Homo sapiens: one gene and its partner. The protein of the gene in region 1 purifies or fractionates together with the protein of each later gene. This does not show direct contact. Each region holds a gene or a part of one and is shown on either strand. Other genes may lie near its edges.

Evidence for each region.
Region 2: the proteins of WDR49 (region 1) and L3MBTL1 purify together in Homo sapiens (affinity purification with mass spectrometry, with the first as the bait; one large-scale study listed by BioGRID). This does not show direct contact.

The regions. Positions count from the first base shown.
Region 1 is NC_000003.12:167,643,912-167,647,730, forward strand, and holds part of WDR49 (cilia- and flagella-associated protein 337), read right to left. Parts: intron 1-3,819.
Region 2 is NC_000020.11:43,528,076-43,531,894, reverse strand, and holds part of L3MBTL1 (lethal(3)malignant brain tumor-like protein 1), read right to left. Parts: intron 3,239-3,819; coding exon 3,150-3,238; intron 2,693-3,149; exon of another isoform or gene 2,632-2,692; coding exon 2,527-2,631; intron 1,612-2,526; coding exon 1,476-1,611; intron 1,098-1,475; coding exon 1,006-1,097; intron 1-1,005. UniProt on the Homo sapiens protein: Polycomb group (PcG) protein that specifically recognizes and binds mono- and dimethyllysine residues on target proteins, thereby acting as a 'reader' of a network of post-translational modifications.

The DNA of each region.
Region 1 (3,819 bases):
CTTTGGGAAATTATAAATAAGTCAAAATAGAATTAAATTGTTCACTAGAGAAAAGAAACAAAAACTGGCTACCAGATCATGTTGGACAATGTTCTGGCTCTGCAAATCACTCAATAGAAAATGACAAATTCCCCCCAATCCCCACCTTTTTTTTTTTTTTTTGGATTTCTCTTCATCACCTGTAAAATAAAGACAGTAGAGTGGTTCTCTATGTTCTCTCTCTTAATGCTAAAATTCAATGGAAGGAAATTAATGCTCTGAGTATAAGGACATAGTATCTATAAAAGGCACTGCTTTTAAATTCAGCACTCTTAATTTCAGCATTACTAGACATACATTTAGAAATAGTACCCCAGAGTCTTTAGGTTATGAAGACATGCCAGCATTTTAAGAACATTTATGTTTGCATTGAATTATGGTATAGATAAGGTGCCCACAAACCCATTTGCTATAACTTGCCCCACTACAATCACAGTTCTCTTTTTCTATAACCTCTACACCACATAAATATGTACATTTTTTATTTTAGAATATGATTATGCATTATTCTGTGATTTTCTTGTTTTCACTGAACATCAAATCTTGGGCAATCTTACATAAGTCTTCCTTATTCTTTTTAATAACTGAGTAATAGGAGTATACCACAATTTACTTATCCATTCATCCAGTTGATGAATATTTGGGTTATAAATACTCCAGTTTGTAAGTGATATTACAATCATATTTTTGCATGTATTTTTTTCTGTACTTCAGAATGTATTTAGGGAAGCTTGGAGGATTAGAATTGCTGATTAAAAAGTATACATGTGGTACATTTTATATTTGATATATAAAGGCAAATTGCCTTCCAGAAAAGCTTTGTCAATTTACAATCTTAGTAAGAGTGCCTATTCCCTTGGTTCTTCACCATCAGTGAATGTTATTGATCTTTTTAATATTTGCCAATCTGATGATTATAAAAAGAACGTCTTCTTTCTGATTAGAGTATCAAATCAAATTCTTAACAAGTTTGGGTGCCTTTTCACATGATTAGAAGCTATTTATGTAGCATTCTTTCTTGAATACATAAAATATAATATATGTAAATATATTCTACATTAAAAAAGCTACATGAGATATGTATATGTGTATATATGGATAAAAATGCACTTAAAATACACCAGAAAATATTAAGAGTAGTTACCCAGGGGAGTATAATGACTGAGAATGGACCATGCTAAGGGGGAAATTTCATGTTTAGCTTGGATTTTTTACCATGAGAATAATGTTACTTTTATTTATTTAATTTAATTTATTTATTTATTTATTTTTAGTTTTGAGATTGAGTTTCGCTCAGTCACCCAGGCTGAAGTGCAGTGGTGCAATCTCAGCTCACTGCAACCTTCACCTCCCGGGTTCAAGCAATTCTCCCCCCTCAGCCTCCCGAGTAGCTGGGATTACAGACACCTGCCATAATGCCTGGCTAGTTTTCGTATTTTTGTAGAGATGGGATTTTACCATGTTGGCCAAGCTAGTCTTGAACTCCTGACCTCAAGTAGTTGTGCCCGCCTTGGCCTCCCAAAGTTCTGGGATTACAGGCGTGAGTCACCATGCCCAGTCTTATTTATTTTAATAATACAAGGATTGCTAAATAGGAATCATAAAAATAAATGAAATTTTATATGGCTGGCTATACCCTCCTTTTTTGTTTGTTTGCTTCTTCTCCTTCTACTTCTGGAAAATAACTCAGCTGCTTTATTTCTTGTACCAACTCCAGTTGTTTCTCCACCACCTTGAAGAATTTTGTAAGGTCCAGTCTTAAACAGTCTGTTCTCTCCTACAGATATCTCATCTCATGGCCTCTCTCCTCCAGAATCTATGTTGCGATTCTCTCACACTCAATTTTGTCTCTCATAGCCTGCCTGGGACTTCTATTTGACTTTAAACAAATAATGGCATTGCGTTAATCAGAGCATCTATGATGAAAGCAACCAAAGGAACATATAGGAAGCTATGAGAAGAGAAAACAGGGTCATTGTAGGGCGCTAATCCCGCCTGCATGGTAAGAAAAGGCTTTCCTAAGGCAGTGGTATTTACACACATGTGAGTAGGAGTTGGCCAGGAAATTGTTGGGGATGGGAGAGAAATATTCCAAACTGAGGCACCAGCATCTGGTAGGCCCTAAAACAGGAGTAAGTAAAATATGATCAGCATGACTGAAACTCTTTGGGTAATGGCCCAGGTCAGATAATTTTGTGATGGACTCATTGGAACCATAAATCCAGACTAAACACCTGTGTGTGTGTTGGGAGTTGAGAGGAGGGGAGTTGCACCAGAAGGAAGAAGGAAGGATTCCCCTGAAAGGAATAGATCTTCCCATTCTTTACAGTCCTAGGAAGGGAACATGGAAAAATAGGTCTTAGACTAGAGTGAAGAGAAATATTTTCTGCTATCTCTGGGGCCAAGGATCAGTTTGGCCTCTGGGTTCTAAGACATGGGCAGTCTGATGTGTTTATAGTGGGATTGAGGAGCTGAGAGTAGCTCCTTGCCACAAATATATGTCCAGAAGTGAGGAAGCAGAACAAGTTAGTACGAAGTCATGAGAAAGGGTTCGAAGCAGCATTGTCCAATGGAACTTTCTGCAATGATGAAAATGTTCTATATTCTTTGCAGTCCAGTATAGTAGCTACTGCGTACTTGAAATGGCTGGTGCTTGTGAGGAACTGAACTTTATTTTATGAAATTCTTACTTTATTTAAATAACCAAATGTAGCACATATTGAAGAGTACACATCTGTAGCAAAACTAGTGTGATAATTTGGCCTTGGGTCTATTGAGAAGATTAGAGAAAGGTGTACACATGCACACATGGGAAGTGAAGCAGTAGAGGAACATAATGTCTCTGGTAATGCCTCCACAGAGATGTCGGTGCCTAGAGAATCAGGATTTCATAATAGTCACATCCATAGAACGTTGGTGAGACATGATGAAGGGAGAAAAGACCCCAAGGGGCTTTTTCTTGCACAAGTATGAGGTAGAGCCTTGGGAAACGGTCAGAAATCACTAAGGGACAGTTTAGAGGATTCCTATTTCTAGCAATAGAGTGAGGGTGTCTTGTGTCATCATTAATACGTTATACTTGGCAAAATGTGACAAATTGAAACCAAAATGCCACAAATAATGGTTCTTTCATTCTTTTATTCATTTTTCTTGTTTAACTCTCAGGAAAATTTCAAAAGTAGCAGTGCCCTTAGTTCACAAGTCTGGCTAAGCTGATGCACTACACATGAACAGCAGTAGACATCTTTGCTTTCTTTCTCCCTCCCTCCTCTGTAACAAGCTTTTCTTGGTTGTCTTCACTTCTCCAGTTTTGGCCAACACTCAAGGTTAAACCACTTGTTTACTAAAGGCACTCTTCATCACACACTGATCCAGATTAATTTTTGTAAGTGCCTGTTGTAAAAGTACACAGAGAGTTTGAAAAGGCAGGAAGCTGTTAGAACTTGTCACAAAAATCAGCACAAAGGCAGCAGGATTTGGAAGGCAAATTTTTCATTTGTAGTGAGATACAACTTCACTTCCTTGAGTTTTGGTGATGACGCCATTTGCTAGCATTATTCATGAATTTTAACAAATCAGATAAAACCACCACAGAATTCCTCTGCCATTTCTAATTGTGCCAACTGCAGTAGTATTGGATTTGTCTTCATGCTATCACCTTAATGTTTTCTGCTGCCATTAAAAATAGGTATTTTGATTGCACTAAGAGCAATGCGTGAGAAATGGTATGACCTGCTGTCTTTGTTCAGCAGATGATGAATTGACTGAGGCTGCAGAATG
Region 2 (3,819 bases), on another chromosome or scaffold:
TGCCCAGCTAATAATTTAATGACATTTTTTGTACAGATGGGGTCTCACTATGTTGCCTACGCTGGTCTCAAACTCCTGGGCTCAAGTGATCCTCCCGCCTCAGCCTCCCAAAGTACTGGAATTACAGGTGTGAGCCACCGCACCCAGCCAGTAAGACTGATACATACTTCTTTTTTTTGAGACGGAGTTTCGTTCTTGTTGCTGAGACCGGAGTGCAATGGCGTGATCTTGGCTCACTGCAACTTCCGCCCCCCAGGTTCAAGCGATTCTCCTGCCTCAGCATCCTGAGTAACTGGGATTACAGACACCCACCACCACGCCCAGCTAATTTTTTATATTTTTAGTAGAGATGGGGGTTTCACCATGTTGCCCAGGCTAGTCTTGAACTCCTGACCTCAGGTGATCCACCCGCCTCAGCCTCCCAAAGTGCTGGGATTACAGGCATGAGCCGCCACACCTGGTCCAGTATGATATTTTTAATGGAGGCTCCCTGTATCTCTTAGGCCTTTTGGTTGGGATTATGAGATACTTTAACTGCTGGATAAGCTGCCAGCTGCCCTGAACAGAGGAAAGGACAAGGGATGAATTGTTGGAAATAAATGGAAGAGTCTCAATGTTGGGCAAAAGGAAAGAAAAAGAAGCTCCCAGAATAGAGGCATTGACCTTACACCAAAGAACTGCAGAGCAAGCCAAAGCAAGAATATATGAGCAATGACATCTCAGTGCTCAGACTAGGGTAGTGGGCCAGGGGCTCCAAGGGGATGTGAGGACAGGGTATCTGCAGTAGCAAAGGAGGGAGGGAAGTCGGGAAAAACCTATAACCAGCTTCCCATCTCTGGCCCTGGACCCTGCCCAGCTGTACCCCTCCCATCTGATATGAGAGATCAGAACAAAGCTGAGAGAACCAGCACATGAGCTCCCTTCTGATGAGTCAGATACCCTGGGCCAGCTGCAGTGAACTCTGGCACATGGGAGTGACATCCACTCTCACTCAGGGGCACTCACGTGGCTCTGGCTCACAAACAGGTGCTTGGGGGCAGCCTGAGCTCTTGTGCTGCGCAGGTACTGGCTCCAGCTGAACTCCTCCTCCTTGTAACCTAGGCCCCTCGAGGGGCATGAACAGAGCGCCGTGCAGAGGCTGGGCCACAGCAAGGGCACCCCACAGTGAAGCAGCAGAATCAGGCATGCCTGAGGACCTCCCCCCAACCCTCAAGAACTTGCCCAGGGATTCCCCACTACTGAAGCAGGACACGACTTGAGTAGACACTCAAAGGGCAAGTGCAAAGCGGAAGTTCTAGGGCTTCTGGTCAACTTGGCCCCAGCGCAGAGTCATCAGGATGCGATGAAGAGAGGCTGGCTTTGGAACAGGGTACAGGGTCAGAAAACAAAAGAGCTGGAAGCCGGGGACCCAAGGGGAAGAAGCGAAGGGTCTGAGGACTCACTGCCTCACTGTGACCAACCCAGCTAGGCCTTACCTTTGGGAGGCTGCAGCTTGTGGCCCGTCTTCTCGAACCAGCCAGCAGGGTGAATGTCAGGGGAGTTGGCATTGACCCAGAAGTCATGGCACTCAGAATACCCATCAAAGTGCAGGCGTAGGCGATAGCCACATACCTGGCCCCATGAGGGGAATCAGGAACTCCAATGTCAGGAGATGCCCCACTCCCCATCTGCCTCACCTCTCCTGGCCCAGTCTGGTGGTCTCAGGGGCTCTAATGCTAGCAGGTTCCCCAACCCCACCTTTCTTTCCTCCCAATTGTACCCCACCCTGTCCTATTCTACAGTGAGGACAGTTCATGTACTCATGAGCCCTGAGTTCTGGATGCAAGGGAGGTGGACCCTATGACAGCTTCCTGCCCTTTTGAGCCCTGGACAGAATTCTGAGGGCAGCCACCAAGGCTCAGGACTGCTGAGGGCTCCTGATGACCGCTCCCTCTGCTACCTTCTCTCACTGCTCCCCACTCGCACTCTGCTTCCAGTCTTGCTGAGCTAGTGGCAATTCCTTGAAGGTAGCAGTCTGTTCCATGCCCCAGGGCTTTTGCCCACTTTGCTCCTTCTGCCTGGAGCTCCCTCCTTATTCACAACTTATCTCTCAAGACTCTGCAAAGGAGGCCCTTCCTCTATGCTTTTGCTGCTCCTCAGACAGAACTGACCCAACTGTGCCTCCCAGCTCAAGTCTGCTGCCACCCCTGTGGCATGTCACTGACATGTTTATTTGGCTGATTCCCCAGACAACTGTGAGCTCCTAGAGGACAAGGACCTTGTTTGACTCATGCCAACATCCCTGGCCCTCGGGATCTCCTCAAGCTCCCCCAGAGTGGACAGTATACATTCATCCAATAATAGGACTGTCCCATGAACTCCATCTGGTTTTTGTTGTTTTAAGCTTTCTATGTATTCCAGCTTCATCCACTACTAGATTGTGTGTGCTCTGAGGGGAGGGAGGTGTTTCCTTCTATGTCCCCAGCAAGATCCATCAATCTGCACTGAGAGACATCATCAGAAAGGTGGTACCAAGCCCCAGCTCACCTCAGCCACGGTGAGGATGAAGTACATGGACGGGTGTTGAGGGTCAATGCCTTCCAACTTCATGCCCAGTTTGAAGCCATTCTTGTTGTGAGTGACTGCCTGGGACTGTCAACGCACAGAGTGGAGAGGACCCAGCTTCCATCCAGCCTTATCCTTGCCTAGTGGGCTTGGGGTGAAGGAGCTGCCTTTAGGCCCCACCCGCCTGGTATTTCCAAAGGGGCAACTTATTTGGGGATCGTTACTACAGGGATCTAGAGAGAGAGAGAGAGAATATCTCCCAGGTCCCTTGAAAAATGTGGGTGAGTCAGGGCTGGACTCAAGGGCTCCCTCTCACCAAAGTCATGGAAAGATCAATGCTGAATTGAGTAGAAGTCACCAGAATTCAAAAGTCTGCAGGCCCAGTGATGAGTGAGCCTAGCTTCCACCTCTCTGTTTCTTCCCACCCTGCCAGCCCCTTATGGGGGGCCCTTTTCCACTCTGGGCCCCTAAACAGTCTCTCCCTTTCCATTCTGCCAGTCCACTGAGGCATGCCTGACACAGAAAACGCCAGAAGGCCTGAGGTTGGTGGTGTGTCCCTAGGCTAGGAAGACAAGCTGTTCCTACGGGGAAATTGTCCAACTCACGTCCTGGAAGAGGCTGACTGGAGCAGTAATGGCCTTCTGCTCCTCTAGGTAGGACTCCCACGACCAGCATTCCTTCTTCTCACCTGTTGCTGTGGAAAGGGGACAGACAGGCTAACTCCTGGGCTGTTCCTGATATATGACTTTCTTCGGCTTCCCCTGACCAAGCTCTACCTTCACCCCCAAAACAAATCTTTGTCTGTGTTCACATGTACCCTCTGGTCCCACCCACCATGATGGTGCCAGACACGGGGCTGAGGGGAGGCTCAGTCTCAGGTGTGGCTACACCAAATTCTGCCCGTCACTTCCCCCCCACCCGCTCAGGCCACTGTCAGCAGAAGTACTCTGGATTATTCAGCAACTGACTGAAGTTACAAAGTCTCAGCCACAGAGGGACCCTGTCCTCTGACATGACAAAGCTGAGTGACAAGTCCTGTGCCAGAGAACTTAATCACAATGCCATCTAAACTCACAAGGAAAGGAGAGGAAAAAGAGAAATGAGAGAGAAAACATGAAAATAGGAAGAAGTGGAAGGGTTGGGAGAAACAAGAAACACGGCTGGGCATGGTAGCTCACGCCTGTAATCCCAGCACTTTGGGAGGCCGAGGCAGGTGAATCACTTGAGGTCAGGAGTTCGAGACCAGCCTGGCCAACATGGTGAAACCCCGTCTCC